3 linked regions of the Homo sapiens genome follow. The protein of the gene in region 2 interacts with the protein of the main gene of each other region in a pairwise test. Each region holds a gene or a part of one and is shown on either strand. Other genes may lie near its edges.

The links.
Region 1: the proteins of MARCHF5 (region 2) and ANKS6 interact in binary tests that used the Homo sapiens proteins (3 or more experiments, as listed by UniProt).
Region 3: the proteins of MARCHF5 (region 2) and UBE2W interact in binary tests that used the Homo sapiens proteins (3 or more experiments, as listed by UniProt).

What each region holds. Positions count from the first base shown.
Region 1 is NC_000009.12:98,772,526-98,779,555, forward strand, and holds part of ANKS6 (ankyrin repeat and SAM domain-containing protein 6), read right to left. Parts: intron 5,900-7,030; coding exon 5,701-5,899; intron 4,930-5,700; coding exon 4,880-4,929; intron 1,556-4,879; coding exon 1,352-1,555; intron 1-1,351.
Region 2 is NC_000010.11:92,294,138-92,301,167, reverse strand, and holds part of MARCHF5 (E3 ubiquitin-protein ligase MARCHF5), read right to left. Parts: intron 1-7,030. UniProt on the Homo sapiens protein: Mitochondrial E3 ubiquitin-protein ligase that plays a crucial role in the control of mitochondrial morphology by acting as a positive regulator of mitochondrial fission and as an important regulator of immune response.
Region 3 is NC_000008.11:73,785,689-73,791,862, forward strand, and holds the end of UBE2W (ubiquitin-conjugating enzyme E2 W), read right to left. Parts: 3' UTR 531-6,174; downstream 1-530. UniProt on the Homo sapiens protein: Accepts ubiquitin from the E1 complex and catalyzes its covalent attachment to other proteins.

The sequences.
Region 1 (7,030 bases), on a different chromosome or scaffold from region 2:
GGTCCTCTTGTTGGTCCTCTACTGTGGGCACTCCTAAGGGAGAGACAGTGACAGATCCCAGGGCCCTGGCCCCCCACTGTGGGCACTCCTAAGGGAGGGACAGTGACACGATCCCCAGGGCCCAGAATGAGGCCCCTCTGCTGAGTAAGCGAAACAGAACACACTTGCAAAGGCCATAGCTCACGTTCTCTCTCCCTCTACCTGGGACGCTGCTGCCTGCACTCCACTGGGGAGAAAACTCTTCCACAGCCTGCAAATCCCAGCTCAGCTGTCGCCTCTTCCTGGAGGCCTCCCGAGTGCCCTACCACACACGGTCACCTCTCTGGCGCTCCCACACTCCTAACACTGCTCCCTGCCTCATGTTCTGTGCCTGTGTCTTTGCCACCCAGACCACCACCTCTTCTAGGGCAGAATGGGGCTGACTGGGCTACATGGCAGTGGGATTCAGTTAATGTTCACTGAGCAAATGAAGCAAGTCAAGTTGATGTTCTGTCCCTCTAGGGTTAAATTCTCAAGGAAACACAGCCATAGAAGAAGTCTCAGGGATGGGTTCTACAACTCCCCCGTTCCTACCTGATCGAGAATAGTGGACTAAATGCAAACCTGTCCTGCCTGTTTTGAGAGCATCTCCAGGCGCCAGGCTCTTGGTCTCCTGCAGGTGATCTCATACTATCATAGCCCTAGGAGGCAGCAGTGAGTGCTGGGGTCAGCCCCATCGTATAGAGATAGAGGCCACACGTTTCTCCAATCACCCAGCACATGGCGACAGGGTCAGTCCTGAATCCCTTCGTCTTGCCCATTTGCTGCATCTACCATCTAGATACAGGTTACACACAGATACCTTCCACACTGATGAGACTGTCAATTTCAGAAACAGACCAAGAGCCACCAAGTTAGAAATCACTACAGTCAAAAGGATAGAAGTCATACTCTTGGGCACAAGAAAACACCAGTAGCACACAGAGTTGCCGCTGAGTGTTTGCTCTTGATTATGGTTCACTCACACTTGGCTGGTGATCTTCAGCTATTACTCCCACTCCCTGGGTCCCAGTTTCCTCATCTACTAAAAGGAAGGTTGGATTAGATGGATCAGGTCTTCAAACTGTGCTCCTTGGAGATCTAGGGTTCCAGTGAGGGGACAGATGTTCCCTGCTACCTCAACATTTTAATCTATTTTCCATACTGAGTTGCTCTGTAGGGCTTCATTAGACAAAAGGATATCATCCATTCAAAAGAAAAAAAAAGTTGCAACCCCTCTGGATTCGTCGGTTTGAGGTCCCGCTGCCTGGAACACACCATGATCTCAGTGAGCAGTGAGTGATGTGTAAAAGTGTGTCAGAAGACAACTTACAGTGTCTGTGCCCCCGCCGCCCACGGGGTGGCCCCTGCTGGCTCTCTGGGGCAGCGCAGTCTTCATGGGGTCTGCCTTCCCGTTGTGACGCGTCCGGGACCGATCAGAGCTCCACAGCTCAAAACTGGAAGGGGGTAGGAATGGGGGGATGACTGCTTTCAGCTTGTCACTCGGGAGTCTGGTGAGGGGAGCTCCGTTTCGAAGCTGAAAAAGACAGGCTGAGGGTTAGACAAGCCCCCAGGAGGGCTCCCAACTCTGCAGGAAAGACTCCATGTTTTTCCTGCTTCTTGGGGCATGGCACCACCATCCACCCCTCCACCCAAGCCGGGAGCTATGTGGCATCTACAGCTCTCCTCCCAGTAACCGCACAACACCCATGTCTGCTCTGCGCCAACACCAGGCTTCTTCTGGATCTCTCCTCACAGCAGCAAGATCAGAATGGGGCAGAGGAGACAGAGCGCCAAGGAGAAGCAGATGATGTTGGTGTGCTGTGGGGGAGGCAGGGGAACTGGGAGAACACAGAGGAGGGGTGCCCCTGCTGCACAGTGAAGGCACCTTTGTGGGAACCGAGCTGAGAACGACAGTTTAAGCTGGGCCAGTGAGGACCAGGAGGTGCATTCCAGACTGAGTGAGGGGCCAGAATATGGAAAGGCCTGGAACCTAGAGGAGCAGGACATGGGTGCAGTGCTGCAAGGAGACCAGCATGAGCAGCCATTGGGAGTGAAGAAGGAAGCAGGAGGTGATAAGGGCTAGGGCTCAGCACCACTCTCTTCCCCAGCCCCCCACATCCCAGCTTGCTCCAGCCACGCCTCCTGCTGCTGACATTTAATTGTAATTTAATTTTTAATTTTGAAAATGTGATTTGGGGGTCAGTATAAAATCTACACAGTAATGACTGTTAGATCTTCAAGGAAGTGTTCACAGACCAAGCTCACCTTAATTAAGAAAAATAGTGAACTTTGTGCCAGATGGAGCTTTGCAGCAACGGGCATCCCACAGCTAAACTCGCCTCGGGAGCCGAGCAGGCGGGCATCTCCACACTGATGGCTGCACATGCCCATCAGCAGGGCAGCCGGGCCACCCCACCCATTATGGGGGGGCAGGCACACTGGCGCCCTCTACAGGGCATGAGCAGTTGGGGAAGTAGTACACCTCCGGGGTTCCCAGGCTGGCTCTGTCCTGCTTTTCTGAGTCTCTAAACAAGTGCTGTCCCCTCTTTCCCTCTAGACCACAACAAGCTCATCCAGCAAACGGGGTTGAGTTGGAAACTCACAGCGACAAATCCACCACCACAAAAGGGTATTTTCCCTCCCTGGGGTAACAGTCTAAATTGTTGCTATCTTTCTGGAAGCCAATGACATTCACAACCTTTGACCCAGGAATTCCATTTCTAGGTATTCATCCTGAGCAAATAATCAGGCAAGTGGGGGAAACGAAGGTATAAGGACATTCATCTGAGCTGTTAAAATAACAAAAAACTAGAAATCCCAGAGTCTGACAGTTCAGTCTTGGATAAAGAGACACGTTCCTACACTAGAATGTTCTAATGTAGCCATTAAATATGATGTGGCTACATGGTGTTTTATGACATGGAAAAGATGGTCACAACACATAAATCACAAATAAATTGGATTCAACACAATATGGGAAAGATACTAACAGTGCCAACCTCAGGAATATTAAATGAGCTGATACATGCAAAGTGCGATGAATAGTAGCTGGTACTTAGTAAAAGCTATGGTATTTGCTATTATTATATACAACATCATATCATATTTATACATGCTAAAAAACTGCTTACAAAAAATACTCAAAAGACATATCCATAAAAATGCCAACCATGGTTATAGTTGGGTGTGTGATCAGGGATGAATTTATTTTCCTTCTATATGTTTTACTGCTTCTTCCAAAATTTCTAAAATAGCATTTCTGTCTTCACACCAAAAATAATTATTGCTATTTAATAACATGATCAAACGTCAGGCAGCACAAGCCCCCACAGTCAGTGTTCGAGCCATCAATTTACACCTGTTGGGGTGGCAGGGAGCCGTGGGCAGATTGGGTCAGGACCCCTCGCTGGGCTCTAAAGTTCCTGACACTGCTGATGCCTTTTCTGGGAGCCCCCTCTGCTCCCTTGTCCTCAGCAATACTGCCCTCTGCTGGCTAGTATTAGGGTCTTAGCGCTAAAGGGACTCAAGTCCAACTTTAACCACTAAGCTCTCATGTCAGAGGAAACAAACGTGAAACCCAGAGAGGGGAGGTAACACATCCAAGTTCACACCACGGAGCTTATTCTGGGCCAGACACTATGCTAAGAACTTCCTGGGAGTGATCTTGTTTAAAAACCATAACCATGAGGGATCCCCGAAGTCAGAGACTGCAAACTGTCCCCCAGTATCTACTTTTCACATCTTAGAAATGACACCCCTAATGTTCATTTAGATGGGCACAGGACCACTTGGAACAAAGACTTCATTTCCCAGCTTCCCCACTGTGATTTAAGCAGAGTAGTTGCCAAAAACCCTTTTTTTTTTTTTTTTTAAAGACAGAATCTTGCTCTGTTGCCCAGGCTGGAGAGCAATGGCACGAGCTTGGTTCACTGCAACCTCCACCTCCCGGGTTCAAGCAATTCTCCTGCCTCAGCCTCCCGAGTATCTGGTATTACAGGCGCCCACCACCATGCCCAGCTAATTTTTGTATTTTTAGTAGAGATGAGGTTTCACCATGTTGGCCAGGCTGGTCTCAAACTCCTGACCTCACGTGATTCACCTGCCTCCGCCTCCCAAAGTGCTGGGATTACAGGCATGAGCTACTGTGCGTGGCCCCAAGAAACTTCCTTAAAGACAGCTGGCATGTGCCCATGGCTACCTCTTCTCCCCTCCTCTCTCCTGCTGGCTGGAATGAGGCCGTCATGGGCCAGAGCTCTGGCAGCCATCTTGAACCAAGAGGTGACCTGAGAAACAGAAACTACACATGGGGGACCAACAGGCAGAAAGGACTCAAGTCCCTAACTCCAATGAGCCATATACTAGTTCTGGACTTTGTTTACTTGAATGAAGTAGGCTGCTGTCTTATTTACACCATTGTTACTTGGGGATTTTCCGTTACTCACAGTTGACCCTAATCCTAATACATCTCTAAGTTACAGATGAGGAAACTGAGGCCTCCCCAGCTGGAAACATAGCCTCCTCTTTGACTCCTCTCACCCTGGTTCTCCACAGCCCAAATGGTGAGTCTTCATTTCTCATGCTGCCCATCAATTCCTACCCTCAATCCCCTGCCTCCATGAGAACAGGGCCAGGGCTGACACCCAGCGGGTGAGCACCAGCACAGCCCTCTCCACAGTTTAGAGCTGGCATCTGTTCTGACTCCTCAGTGCCAGAGCTAAGCCCACTGTTACACATTCTCATCACCAACCCTATCTGTGACCACTACAAAGACAGACAAACACCTACATCCCTCCTTGTAAATCAATCAACTGATGATTGCCGGAGACCTAAAATGCTTTTAGAAAAGCCCCACACTCACCATGGTTGTCAATAACGTGTCTTCCTTTTCTCCTCTTGTGCTCCCAGGACCTGAGAGACAAATGGAAATTTCCTGAAATGACCCCTCCACGTGTCCACAGCATAAGGATGAGTGACTGGGGCAGGCTTCAACCTGGAAAACCAACTCTCCTGGGTGCTTAAATATTTAATAATAATTGGTATTCGATATTTTAATAGAAGGAAGGCATTTAAAAGGTATATTGGAGCATGTTTTCAGCTTTTCCATAAACCACTGCCGTACTGAGTCAGACAGTGGTGCCCCCAGCTCAATAGTCTGTCTCAGACAGTGGTGCCAAAGTAGCTAATCTGGTCATGGGGAATCTGACTGTTAGAAGGGATCTTATCTATGTTCCAGTCAGTATGGGAATCTCCTTCAGCAAACTGACAAAGTTATCCAAGCTGTTGAATACCTTGAGTGACGGGGAGCTCACTACTCACACCCTCCCAGTAACTCATTTTATTTCAAGATGCTTTCAGTGTCATAGACCAATCACATTTCAGAGGTGGGGAAAACCACCTATCAAAGGCAAGAGAGAGGACGACTCCCTGTCGTCCCTCAGCAGGGAGTGTGGGACAGGAACCTGGGCCTCTTGCCACTGGCCAGCACCTTCTCATTCTATCACACTCTTGGTGGTTGTGTCCCTGCCTAAGTATCTTTTCCACCAGACCAGCCTCTATGCTCCAGTGTCCCATTCCAACATCATCTTACCCCTGACAGCAACCCAGGAGGTAGGATGAAGGGCAGAGGGTACAGGCTCAGACCATTCCAAAAATTCTACTGCACATGCAGACTTTTCTCACCATTGTCTTTGGTCACAGGGGCCGCATCAGGGAGTGCAGAGCGGCTTGTCTTGTCCTGGGGGGCAGCCCTCATTGTGGAGTCCAGAGCTGGCTCAGGCTCGTCAGAGAAAGGCAAAGGCTGGTTGCTGGACAGCCCACGGGGCAGCGTCTGCATCAGTTTGAGCTTTCGGAACCGATTGGACATTCGGTTCCACCAGGACTGCCAAAGGAACGCAGAGCAGAAGTCATGCTCCAGGAAGGGCAAGGAGACCAGGCCCAGGACCTGCCAGCCCAGAGACAGTGACTACATTCACATGTGCCTGCCCTCCCCTCTCCTGGGGCCCAGACAGACATTACTGATCAATGATAGCACCCATTCCCAATAAGCCATGGTTACTCACTAAATCTTTCCTGACCCAGCCCTTAGGCAGTCACTTCCAATAGCCTGGAGGTGGCAGTGAACCCTATTTGCCACCCCTCATCTAATCAATCTCCTCATTGCACAGATTGAGAAATGGAGACCCAGACAGGATTGCTGACTTGCTTGAGGTCTTACAGTGAGACAGGGACAGATGGACACAGAGGCAGCTCCAGATTCCTAAGCGTCTACAATAGCATAATCTCCCTCCTCCTGCTCTGGTGATAACGTGAGAGGCATCAGGATCTCTATACCAGGGCCTGGGCCAGCTGCTCCTATAGCTGAGCCTCACCTAGAGAGGACAGGCACTACCTCCTGGGAACGCTTGTAACCCATGACCACTCAGAGGTTAATGAACAGCCACGAAGGGCATCTGTGAGGGCCTGCCTGTGGAAATGGCAGTAAGAGCAGGAATGAAGGGAGCTATGAGAACAACACAGTCAGGAAGGATGCAGAGCTTGAGCCAGCAATGGACACAAAAGGAGCGCCGAGTCTGCAGCCCTCAGAAGGCGCTACCACCCCATGCAGACTGGGGAGGTCAGCAGACAAGACCAGTGTGTTGTTTTGTTTTCTCAGGCATAAAGTAAGTTTGATTTCAAACAAGTAGAGCAGGATGTGGAAGATGAGAAATCCAAAGAGAAAGTCTCAGCTTGCAGTTACAAGCAGCCACCAGAGCTTGTTTCTGGTGTTTCCAGGAAGCTGGCAGGGCCTGTGGACTGCAGGGAGACCCCAGAGTGGCATGATCAGCAAATATCCTGCACAGTAAAGCAGAGGCTGCAAACGGATTCCTTGGGAAGAGAAGTGTTTGCTTTGGCCAGCTCAGTACTACATCATGCAGAATTTTCTAAAATTCCCTGTACTTATAAATTAAGATTCCATATCAAAATCTGGATTTCTATTTTTTCCTTTAAAAAAAAAAGAGAGAGAGATCTA
Region 2 (7,030 bases):
TGCCTGTAATCCCAGCACTTTGGGAGGCTGAGTGGGGAGGACTGCTTGAGACCAGGAGTTCAAGGCCAGCCTGGCCAAAACAGTGAAACCCTGTTTCTACTAAAAATACAAAAAATTAGCTGAGCATGATGGCACACACCTGTAATCCCAGCTACTTGGGAGGCTGAAGCATGAGAATCGCTTGAACCCGGAGGCTGCAGTGAGCCAAGGTTGCACTACTGCATTCCAGCTTGGGCAACAGAGTGAAGGCTCTGCCTCAAAAAAAAAAAAAAAAAAGAATTAGGAGGCACTGAAGATGAACTGCTACATGAGTCTGGAGAAGAAGAGAAAAATATTTCTGCAGACATGGTCAGAAGAGCATTATAAACAAGGCAGAACCTAACTAGGTCTTGAAAAATGGGTAGAGCTTTGAAAGAAAAGATGCCAAACAAAACCCAAAAACAAAAACCACCTTATGTTTGGAAGAAAGTGCGCAAGCCAGTTTGGCTTGGGCAAAAGACTTGGGTACTTATACACTTATTCATAAAGAGAAGAAAGGCTTTAAAAAGGCAGTTGGTGCCAGCTATGTACGGCATATCTTAAACATAATAGGGAGCATAATAAATGGTCTGTGAATAATGGTGAGTGTCCTGAAGGACAGGCTAAAGAATATGATCTCTTTTTTTTTTTTGAGACAGGGTCTTGCTCTGTGGCCCAGGCTGGAGTGCAGTGGCATGGTGCAATCTCAGCTCACTGCAACCTCCATAACCTGGGCTCAGGTGATCCTCCCATCTCAGCCTCCCCAGCAGCTGCAATTACAGGTGTGGGCCACCACACCCAGCTATTTTTTCTTTCTTTCTTTTTTTTTTTAAGTAGACACAGGGTTTCTCCATGTTGCCCACGCTGGTCTCAAACTCTTGGGCTCAAGCAATCTGCTCCTCTCGGCCTCCCAAAGTGCTGGGATTACAGGCATGAGCCACTGAGCCCGGCCAGATCTTTTTTTCTTTTCTTTTCTTTTTTTTTTTTGAGACAAGGTCTTGCTTTGTTATACCCAGGCTGGAGTGCAGTGATGTGATAATGGCTTGCTGCAGCCTCAATCTCCCAGGCTCAAGTGAACCTCCCGCTTCAGCCTCCTGAGTAGCTGGGAGTATAGGCATGCACCACTACACTGGTTACTTTTTTATTTTTTGTAGAGACGGGGGTCTTAGTATTTTGCTCAGGTGGGTCTCAAACTCCTGAGATCAGGCGATCCTCCTGCCTCAGCCTCCCAAAGTGCCCAGCCCTGAACTTAATCTCAATAAGCAGTAAGAAAATACAAGTTTTGAGCAAATGAGGCAATTTAAAAAAATGGTGCTTCTGCATGATTATTCTAAGCACTGATATGTCACAAAGAATGAAAAGAAAGACATCATGATACAAAAGAGGGTCTCCTATGCACTAAGGCCCTTGTGGGAAAATAGGATAGGGAATACAGGCAGTTTCTGTTCTCAGTGAACTTCCAGATGAATATGTGTGTGTGTGGGAAGCTCTGAGACATGGGACAAGTATATTAAAAAATTTACAGTACAATGTGATACACTATAATAAATGCAACAAGGTTCTATTGAAACACAGAAAGGAGTTATTAACTCTGTTTGGGGGAGCTGTGCAAGGTGTCACTGTGGTATTTCAGCTGAATTCAATATGGGTAAGACTTCACCAGGTGTTAGGAGGGAGGAAGGCACCTAAAGCAAAAATAAAGAAATGAAAGAGCAGGATATGTTCAGGGGTCAATGAAGGGGAGTGCAGGAAAGGATGGTTAAGGTAGGTTGGGGCTGGATTATAGTAACAGATCAAAGCACGTTACCCCGTTGAAAGTTTACGTTTTATCCTTTTACGTGACACAGAGACTGGCAGATTTTTAAGTATAGAAATCGCATGATTATAATTGTGCCTTCGCTAATTCTAGTGCCACTCTGTAGGCCAAACTGGACCAAGTGAAAAATTGAAGCTAGAAAAAGGAAAATCAACAATATGTGATGAACAAGTGGATCTGGAAGGAAAGAAGGCAGCAAAAAAATGTAAATAGGCCGGGCAAGGTAGCTCATACCTGTAGTCCTAACACTTTGGGAGGCCAAGGTAGGATTGGTGGAGAACAGGAGTTTGAGACAGCCTGGGCAACATAGTGAGACCCGTCTCTATCCCCCTCCCCACCAAAAAAAAAAAAGTTTAAAAAAAATTAGCTGGGCATGCTGGCTTGCCCTGTGCTCCTAGCTACTTGGGAGGCTTGAGCCTGGGAGTGCAAGACCCTGTTTCTTTAACAAAAACAAAGAAAACAAGAAAAACTTATGTTTTGGCTAGCTTCATGCCTGTAATCCCAGCACTATGGGAGGCTGAGGCAGGAGGGTCACTTAAGCTCAGGAGTTTGAGACCAGCCTGGGCAACACGGCGAAAGCCCGTCTCTACTAAAAATACAAAAATTAGCTGGACATGCAGTCCCAGCTAGTCAGGAGGGTGAGGTGGGAGGATATTTTGAGCCGGAGGGTGGGGGATGGAGGTTGCAGTAAGCCGAGATGGGCCACTGCACTCCAGCCTGGGCGACAGAGCCAGACCCTGTCTCAAAAACAAACAAACAAATAAAATTTATGTTTTATAGCTGGTGGACAAGAAGACTGGTAATATCAAAGACCAAAAATTGAGAAGTCAAGATAAGTAGCTTAGTTTTAGATTGATTGGCAATACTGTATACACACAAATGGAAATGTCCACTGGGCAGGTAGAAATTAGGTGCTAAAGGAAATGAGGAAAAGAGGTCAGGAATAAAGACACAGATCTGGGAGTTGTTTGAATAAACAGGAAAGAGAGTGAGTAAGTGTACTTTCTCAAAATAGTAAATGCTGAGAATTGAACCATACATAGAAATTGAAGGAAGAAAAAGGTAACGTGATTCTGAAGGATAAAAAGTCCTGAAGAAAATGTCATTATATTTACTAAGAAATTATTGGTGACCTTTAGTATACATATACATATATAGAGAGAGAGATCGTGCAGTGGCACGATCTCAGCTCACTGCAACCTTTGCCTCCCAGGTTCAAGCGATTCTTGTGCCTCAGCCTCCCGAGTAGCTGAGATTACAGGTATGTGCCACTATGCCCTACTAATGTTTGTATTTTTTGTAGAGATGGGGATTCGCCATGTTGGCCAGGCTGGTCTTGAACTCCTGAGCTCAAGTGATTGGCCTGCCTCGGTCTTCCAAAGTGCTGGGATTACAGGTGTGAGCCACTGCACCCAGCCCTTCAGTACACTTTCAGTAGAGCTAATGACAAGAAAGGGGAATGAAAGTCAAATTATCAGGAAAAATAATAAAGAGAAAATAAGAATCTAAATGTCATAAACGAGACTGGATTAAAAAAGAAAAAAGGCCAGGTGTGGCGGCTCATGCCTGAAATCCCAGCACTTTGGGAGGCCGAGGCAGGTGGATCACGAGGTCGGGAGTTTGAACCAGTCTGGCCAACACAGTGAAACCCTGTCTCTACTAAAAATACAAAAAATTAGCTGGGTGTGGTGGCACGTGCTTGTAGTCCCAGCCACTTGGGAGGTTGAGGTGGGAGAATCAATTGAACTCAGGAGGTGGAGGTTGCAACAGTGAGCCGAGACCACGCCATTGCACTCCAGCTTGGGTGGCAGGGTGAGACTCTGTCTCAAAAAAAAAAAAAAAAAAAAAAAGTTGAAAGCTGGATGTGGTGGAACACACCTGTAGTCCCCCACTTTGGGAGCTTTGGGAGGCCGAGGCGAGCGGATCACTTGAGCCCAGGAGTTTGAGACCAGCCTGGGCAACGTGGTGAAACTCCATCTCCACAAAAAAAATACAAAAAATCAGCTAGGTGTGGTGGTGCACACCAGTAGTCCCAGCTACTCTGGAAGCTGAGGTGGGAGGATCACTTGAGCCTGGGAGGTTGAGGCTGTAGTGAGCCGTGACTGTGACCCTCCACTCCAGCCTGAGCAATGGAGTAAGACCCTGACTCAAAAAAAAAAAAAAAAAAGTAGTCTATTAATATACTTTTCTATATAAAAGCATTAAACCAAGAAGGATGGAAGAATATAAACCCATTTTATGATAGTGGAGTGGGGATGAGAAGATATGCCATTGGGGATGGTGGTCAAAGGGGATTTAATTTTATCTATGATGTTTCCATTTTTTACATATATCTGGAAATAAATATAATTGATGATGATTTTTAATTCTGGGCATTGGTCTGTAATTGTCAACATGGTGATGTGATTGAGAAAAAGAGGTCAACTGACAAAGAAAATGTGAAATTGTTTATACAGCATGCTCCTATCAGAGTATAGCTTCCTTGGTCTTCAAAGGGGTATACATCTGTGGATAACACTCTCACAGAGGCAGAATTCTAATTCACTATACCATTGTGGGAGGGGGCTGGAAGAATAGACCACTCTCTCTGCTCTTTCTGCCATCTGACCATTCTGGGGACATTCTGGCTACACTCCTTGCCTATTTACTAGATGCAAGTAAGTGATGCAAAACAACCTCAACAAATTAATGCGTGTTTATTTTAAGACGGGGGAAGCAGAAGTAGTTTCCAAAAGCATTTCTCAGTAGGTCCAGGCTTCAAATCAGAGGTCCATTCCTGCAGTTTGTTATAATATTCTTTGCATTGTTCTCTGTAAATTCACTCCTAACTTTGAGAAGTTTTAGAGAAAAATGAGAATGTCGGTGGTCAAAGAGAAAGTAATATATAACAACTTCTTATTAAAGAATTGAAGCAATGAAAGACAGAAGAGCTAACTAAGGTTCAAAAGGCCTGACATAAAGGGTTTGGGCTTATGAATGGTTATCATTTCAGGGAAATGATATTTGTGACACTGAAACATTCACGACACTAGAAAAATCACCCCCCTTTCCACCATTCTTGTTTCCCCACAACAACTTAAAAGGTTCAAATAATAAATTTACATAAAACACTTATAGTTTATAAAAACGAAAGGCAATCCAAAGAATATATATCCATATGGTCAGGAGTGGTGGCTCACCCCTGTAATCCCAGCACTTTGGGAAGCAGAGGTAGGTGGATCACCTGAGGTCAGGAGCTCGAGACCAGCCTGACCAACATAGAGATACCCAGTCTCTACTAAAAATACAAAATTAGCCAGGCGTGGTGGCACATGCCTGTAATCCCAGCTACTCCGGAAGCTAAGGCAGGAGAATCACGCGAACCCGAGAGGCGGAGGTTGTGGTGAACCGAGATCGCGCCACTGCCCTCCAGCAGCCTGGGCAACAAGAGCGAAATTCCATGAAAAAAAAAAAAATTCCATATATATATGTATGTATGTATATATATACGTATGTATATGTATTCTTTCCACCTACAAATATTACAGTAATCAAAGTTACCAATATAAACAAATAATAGCTAAACTAAAGTGAGTTATTTGCAAAGGACAAGGGAATTCAACTTCAGCTATTAAGAAGTTGCCACAGGCCAGGCACGGTGGCTCACGCCTGTAATCCCAGCACTGTGGGAGGTCAATTCCGGCAGATTACGACGTCAGGAGATCGAGACCATCCTGGCTAACACGGTGAAACCCCGTCTCTACTAAAAATACAAAAAAATTAGCTGGCCTTAGTGGCGGGTGCCTGTAGTCCCAGCCACTCGGGAGGCTGAGGCAGGAGAATGGCGTGAACCCAAGAGGCACAGTTTGCAGCGAGCCAAGATTGCGCCACTGCACTCCAGCCTGGGCGACTGAGCGAGACTCTGTCTCAAAAAAAAAAATAAAAAATAAATAAATAAATAAATAAAAGAAGTTGTCACCAGTTGGCCCAAGTGACAGAGTGAGACTTCGCCTCAAAAAAAAAAAAAAAAAAAAAAAAAGAAAAGTTGCCTCTAGTTTAAAAACCCTGAAAGATTAAATGGTATAAATTGAACATACCATTCATATTACAATTAAAATAGTCTTCACTTTGACAGTTTAGACAACACAAACACCCCTGGAATTGAAGCTCCATAAGGGCATTTTTGTTATGTTCAATTCACCACTATATACCAAGGGCCTAGAATAGTACTGGGCATATGAAGACACTCAGTATTTGTTAAATAAATTCAATAAGTGTAAATGTTTAATAATTGATTTACTGAAAAATAACATTTTTTTTTAAGACAGGGTCTTGCTCTGTTACCTGGGCTGTAGTACCCAGGGGCACAAACACAGCTCACTACAGCCACGACCCCCAAGGAATCCTTCCACCTCAGCTTCCTGAATATTTGGGACCACAGGCATGTGCCACCAGGCCTGGCCTAATTTTTAACATTTTTGTAAAGACTGAGTCTTGCCATGTTGCCCACACTGGTGTCTAACTCCTGGGCTCAAGCAATCCTCTCATCTCGGCCTCCCAAAGTGCTGGGATTACAGGCATGAGCTACTGTGCCTGGCCTAAATAAAATACGTAACTTAACCTAAAAGCAACAGAACAATATGTAACACACAGTTCCTTAGTCTTCACGAAGATAAAACCTGCATTAAAGAAATAAACAAATGAACAGTTATCTGAGCTAAATTCTGTCCCTCAAAAATTGCCACCAAAAACCAGGTTGGGGAGAAGCCAAATTCATGAAAAGAATTCTGGGTCCTAATAGGCTGACATATTTTAGTCTCTTGGCCCTGTTGGTATTCCTCAAGTGAACCATGTTGAGTATCTTTGTGTTCAACTTGCAGTAGGGCCAGCCCAGGTGAAGAAAGCTGTAAACATAAAGTAGATGGGGGAAAAATGGCCAAACTGGTTTACATTAGTCTTAAGTGCCTTCTATTTGGCTAACATAGAGTGTTTTGCTGTTTTATAGAGATGTATGTTTCATTTGCTGTAGCCCTGTGAAGTAGGGTTCTCATTTTATAAATGATAATATACATAGTGTCAGAATCTAAGTTCAAAGTCACATAGCTAGTAAGTGGCAAAATTCGAATTTCATACTTTCTATCTCTGAGCCCAAGCTTTACTCACTATACCCTACTATCTCTTATCATGAAAGATATCACTGACTTAGGACTTAGGGCA
Region 3 (6,174 bases), on a different chromosome or scaffold from region 2:
TCAAGCTATTCTCCTGCCTCAGCCTCCCAAGTAGCCGGGATTACAGGCGCCCACCACCACGCCGTTATTTTATTTTTAGTAGATACGGGGTTTCACCATGTTGGCCAGGCTGGTCTCAAGCTCCTGACGTGATCCACCTGCCCAAAGTACTGGGATTACAGGCGTAAGCCACTGTGCCTGGCCCATCTTTATGCATGACAGTACTTTTCACAGACATGTTTCTTTGATAATCAGAAACTATCTGCACCTCTTAAGGCTTGTCACATTTTATATGATATGCTTTTCTATTTATTATCTCCCTTATTACATATGCCCTTTGAAGATATATACCTCATCTGCCATCCTTCTTGGCATATGAAAGGCACACAATAATTATCTGCTTAATGCTGGTTTTTAAACTCTATGTCAGGTTTACCTTTATGATTTTATGGTTCCTGAGATGTATTTAGTTTAAAACAATTAATTTGTGACAAGCAATTTGCCTCAGAGATAAAGATATGAGAAACACCTATAAAAAAAGCCAAAACCAATGAAGAATGATTAATGATTTATTTAAAAGTAGTTTTCTCAAACTCTCTGGGATAGAAAGAGCAGGGTCCTGTTATACATTTTACTCAGGTGGTGGTTCTGGATATATGTTTCAAAATAGCTAGCACCTAAGTTTCTTTGAGAAAGCTAGGATAAAAATACAAGCATAACCAAGTTAATTCAATACACACTTATTAAATGCCTATGTGCTACAGGTACTGTATACTAGGTACTGTGTGCTACGTGCTGGGGACACAAACACAATTGCAACACTGTCCCTACTGTTAAAAAGTTCAGGATAGATGACTGGTAGGGAGAGAAGAAAGGACAAGGATGATAACCTTTCAGCTACCTTTGAACTAGACCTTTCAGGTAGAAACGCAGATCATGAACATTCTAGGAGGGAAGAACATTAGCAGACGGCAGTGGAAGCTTGCATTGCTACTGCTTATGAAACAAGGTTTGTGGACAGCTGAAGAGCAGCCTAGGGACACCAAGGCCAGGTAGTGAAAGGCCCTAATGGTAAGGAGACTGGAGAGAAGGTAGAAATCTCAGAGACATTTTAAAGTTACACTCAACAGGACTTGAAAAATGCAAGGAGAGGACTACTGAGTATCATTGCTTGATTAAGTTGGATGGGAATGTCATTAAATTATAACAGGATAAAAGAAATATGTTTTCATTGAGGTATGGAAACATAAAATTTTAATGTTGAATTGGCTATCTGCAGGATACAGCCATCTATATTAGGATCTTGTCTAATGACATATATTCACCCACATTAAGTCCCTGAAGGCCAGATACAGACATGAGAAGATATTTCCTACCTTAGTTGATAAACTTTCCTTATTATTTCCATAATCCACTTAACTGTAAAGGGCGTAGGGATTCCCACTTATGTATTTTGCATTATGCAGGCAAACATTAAAAATAAATCTTACAGGCAACTAAAAAAATGGTTGAAAGGGGCTCCCAACAGGACAGATAACCACAGTGGCTTTGAGCTTTGTTGTCCAAGTACACAAAACTCTTAGCTGTCTCACTTGCTTCTTCAATTTAGCTTATGTTTAATTTTGTTACGTGTTATGTTAGTGTGAAAATGAGTAAGAAATATAGGGAGGACATAAACAGAGTCACTTATCCAGGGTAGCTTAAACTAATGGAGAAAAGTCAAATCCTACTATGGAAAGTAGAAATTAAGGATTATAATAAAGGAAAAGGGCATCATCAAAGTACAAAAGATGGTTCATATATTTATCTAACCATCTACTAACATAGTTGTGTAGGACGGCAGGAACAGCTTGAGACATGATCGTTTTTATGGCAGAATGGCTGCCTCAATGAGGACTAAGGTGCTCCTGGGGCAAGCAGATCCCCTGCAGAAAAGCTTAGAATTACCAGCAGAGCATATTTAATTCCTCCTGTCAGGAATAACAGATGCTGAGATAGCCCCTTCTTGTGGTTATTTCTTTCCTCTTCTTGCAGCTTCAAGAGTCACTCATTTAAGTCATTAGTTGATCTGTTTGTATACTCCAGAAAGCATCCAGAAGTTCTTAGAGTATGCCCTTAATTGTACAACTTGAAGTTCAGGAACATCGGACTCACGATAACTCTAAGCAAGTGCCTGGGTCTCCATTTCCATCTTCACTGAAAACACTCAGTCTTTAGTTGGGACTTATTAAAACACTAAAACTAGCTACATATTACATAAAGGTGATGTGTTAAATAGATGGTTTAAGTGACTATCTTCATTCTGTTGCACTCATTTTGGAAATGGACATGTTCCTGTTTCTATAATCCTTTAAAATTCAGTCTTTTGTGAAGAGAAACTACTGTACAAATACTTTTACGTCATAAACCAAAAAGAGGTCTGGTATCTATCCCATTTAGTATTCAAGTCTACAGAAAAAATCCAATAACAACTGCTTTATTATTAAAAGTTATGAAATTCCATAAAGCAAAGTAATCTGCATTCAACTAACAAGTCTGATACATGTATTAAAAAATATATAACATAGATTTGTCTGTTTTAACATTTATATTCTATTTAAAAAGTAGTGACTTTACATATTTTGCAACTTGAGTTTATAAAATATATACATCCACCCTATTCAAATCCTCAAGCATGAGCTTTCATTCCTATTAATAAAATGCACACTCTGTAGTTCTGAATAATAAAAGGAAAATGGCACCAACTAAAACAAACAAATTCATTTTGACCTGAACATGCATTTAGTTTTTGGCTACTAATCAACCCAATAATCCATTTTACCTTGAACCTGACCACCAATTTGCCTTTACATAAACAATCTGTGGTTAACTATGAAAAGATGCATTTTCATGGTATCTGACACAATTTACCAAGTTCCTTATGGTAGATTTCAGGCTTTAAATTGTAAGTTTCAGGCTTCAAAAGAGGCAGGATTATTAAATCTTTCCATACACCAGAAAATCTGACAAGTGATGTCATTTTGAAATCATGCTTTTGCCTTTGAGAAAACAACTTAGAATTGTTGTAGGACCAATGAGAAAACAACTTAGAATCGTTGTAGGACCATCCTTTTCTCAAAACCCAGAGAGTGTATGTGCCAAGGACTAGAACAAGAATTGGATCTCTCCTTTTCCCAGTCAACTCCTCACTCACCATATTAAAACTGGAGTTCTTGAGGTATGTTAAGATAGATCAGCTTCTATTCAGGCATTCCTTCCACATACTCAAAATACCCTCAGATATTTTATTAACAAAAAATTTTTCATAAAAAAATAGTCATTTAATCATTCTAGAGACTCATCACAAAATACAAGTCACAATATTAACATATGAAAATTAAAATTACAATTAACATCTCACCAGGATCAAAGAACCCTAACTTCAACTTTCAGGATAGAGAGCTAAGTTTCAAGTACATGTCTAGATTCTATGTGCCTCTAATGATAATGATGTACATAAACCTGTCTTAAATCGGCAAACAGACGAGGCATGGTGGCTTGCACCTGTAATCCCAGCATTTTGGGAGGCTGAGGCAGGAGGAATGCTTGAGCCCAGGAATTCAAGATCAGCCTGGGCAACATGGTGAGACCTCGTGTCTTTAAAAAAAAAAAAAAAAAAAAAAAAAAAAAAAAAAATTCTATCCATCCAGGCATGGTGGCACACACCTGTAGACTCAGCTACCCGGGAGGCAGGAGGATTGCTTGAGCCAAGGTGGTCAAGGCTGCAATGACTGTTCCACTGCACACTCCAGCCTGGGCAACAGAGGAAGACCGTCTCAAAAAACAAAAAACAACCCACACACAATTTATGTTGAGAAAGCAAGTCTCCCACAAATTATTTTTAAAAAATGATTCCAGGCTGGGTGTGGTGGGTCATGCCTGTAATCGCAGCACTTTGGGAGGCTGAGGTGGGCAGATCACTTGAAGTCAGGAGTTCAACACCAGCCTGGCCAACACGGTGAAACCTTGTCTCTACTAAAAATTAGTCAGGTGTGGCAGCACATGCCTGTAATCCCAGCTACTCAAGAGGCTGAGGCAGGAGAATCGCTTAGACCCAGGAGGTGGAGATTGAAATGAGCCAAGATCGTGCACTGCACTAAAGCCCGGGTGACAGAGCAAGACTCCGTCTCAAAAATAAATAAATAAATAAATAATAAAAATAATCATTCCACATCTCAAAATGACTTAGAAATTTAAATGGAAAAAATAAATAATTTGCTTGGACAATAATTTGGCTTTGGGAGAGTCCTCATCCGAAAATAACAAAATTTCCTTAATATTAGTACTAAAGAACTAATTACAGCTAACAGCTCATTTACCAAGTAGTCAATTATTCAACAAATTTAGCCATCTACTGACAAACTGAAATTAGTATCAGAAACTCCATGTATTTTATTTGTAGGAGAGCATTTTAAATTTTTCAAAAATTCATGGCATAATTTTAATAATCGTCCTTCTGTAGAATCCCTAACCTCAGAAAAAAAAAAGAGAGAATAAATTAGAAGTGAGAAAAGGAAACTGCGGAAGACTGACACATTGGACATCAGTGGGAAGAGGCAGAAAAATAGGAAGAAAAATAAAGGACAGATTTAAAACAATTTAAAAAGGACTACAAAGAGGATTGGGGCCAGTTGGTGCAGATTAAAAGACACCTTCTTCACAGACCTCAATCATGCACAGGCAGTAACGGCATTACTATAACACAGAACAGTATAGTAGCTGATTCTGATAATGAATCCTCAGAAAAGAAGAATATGGTTAAGCTTCAGTTCTTTTTGAAAAGCAATTTACATACACAATTACAAATAATTGTAAATTTTAAGCATTCAGCTAAGATATGTACAAAAAAATTAATGAAAGTGAGATCAAGAAATATAAGCAGCAGTAACCATAAAGGCTTAGAACTAGTGACACTGAATTCTTTATTTAAAAAAATTTTTGTAACACACAGTACCTCCTCTTCTCTTCTATTTTTAGGAAGAAGTTATAACAAGTTTTAAATATCTCAATTCTGAAAAACAATAGGCTTTTAAAAAATAAGACTTGATTACCAGAAACAAGTAATATGTAGTTACATAACCATTTTCATATCACTACTCATTTCCATTATTTACCAATTCATCTTTGATGCAACTTGGAAACAATTAAGCAGTCACTAGACACCTGTTTTAGAATCTGAAGAAATTATTATCCACCACAGGAATCTAATGATATATATATTTGCATATATTTAAAATTTCATGAGGGAAAAGGTAATAAACTATTCTAGTTATTTTATACCAAATATTGATATTCCTAGTCAAAACAACAAGGAATTAAGATCTTTCTCCAGGTGAACTGCTGACTATATAGAAGCTATTTCCAGCACTTTCTTCTGGGGATTAAAAATGATTTATTTCCCTGCTGGCTAAAATGATAAATTATATATTACAAGTAAGTCCTTCAGAAGTGAATATTAATTCCTTAAGAGAACCATAAAATGTATTTTTAAAAAATTCTCTTAAAAACTGAAAACAATCCTTCTCTCTAAACCTATGGCATTAATCCCTACTTGACCAAAGAAAAAAAAAAAAAAGAAGGGCATCATGTTCATGATCTAAGCATGCATAAATAAGGAAGCAAATGTATCACTGTCTTAATAGAATTTGGCAAACCAGAAGAATGGCCTAAAAATAAATAAATAAATAAATAAAAGAAGAAGAGTGTACCTTATCTTCTAAGTATGAAAGTCTAATTCTGTAGGCCTATGTCGCAAATAGTGCCCCACGAGGAAATGCAGGGAGGAGGCAAGTAGCATATTCCTATATACATTTTCTTGATATTCTGGTTGTCTTTCAACAATGCATTACAGAGAAATATTCTTTTTATTATTACAAGCCATTAATTGCTCTCTGTAGAGCAATGACTCAGATAAATGCCTTATGACTTTTAATAATGTAACTAACATATAAATTAAATCTAAGTGCAAGGAGTTTTCAATGATTCCTAAATTCAAGAGAGTGTTGTTAGCCTGATTATGAATTTTAAATGTCTGTGCTCCTATATTTTAGGATATTTCATCTTATTTTCTACTCTTTAAACCATAAGATGTACCGAAATTATTTCATTTTCCTCTACTTTCCTCTGTGTCATTTTAGTTTACTTTATGGTATTTAT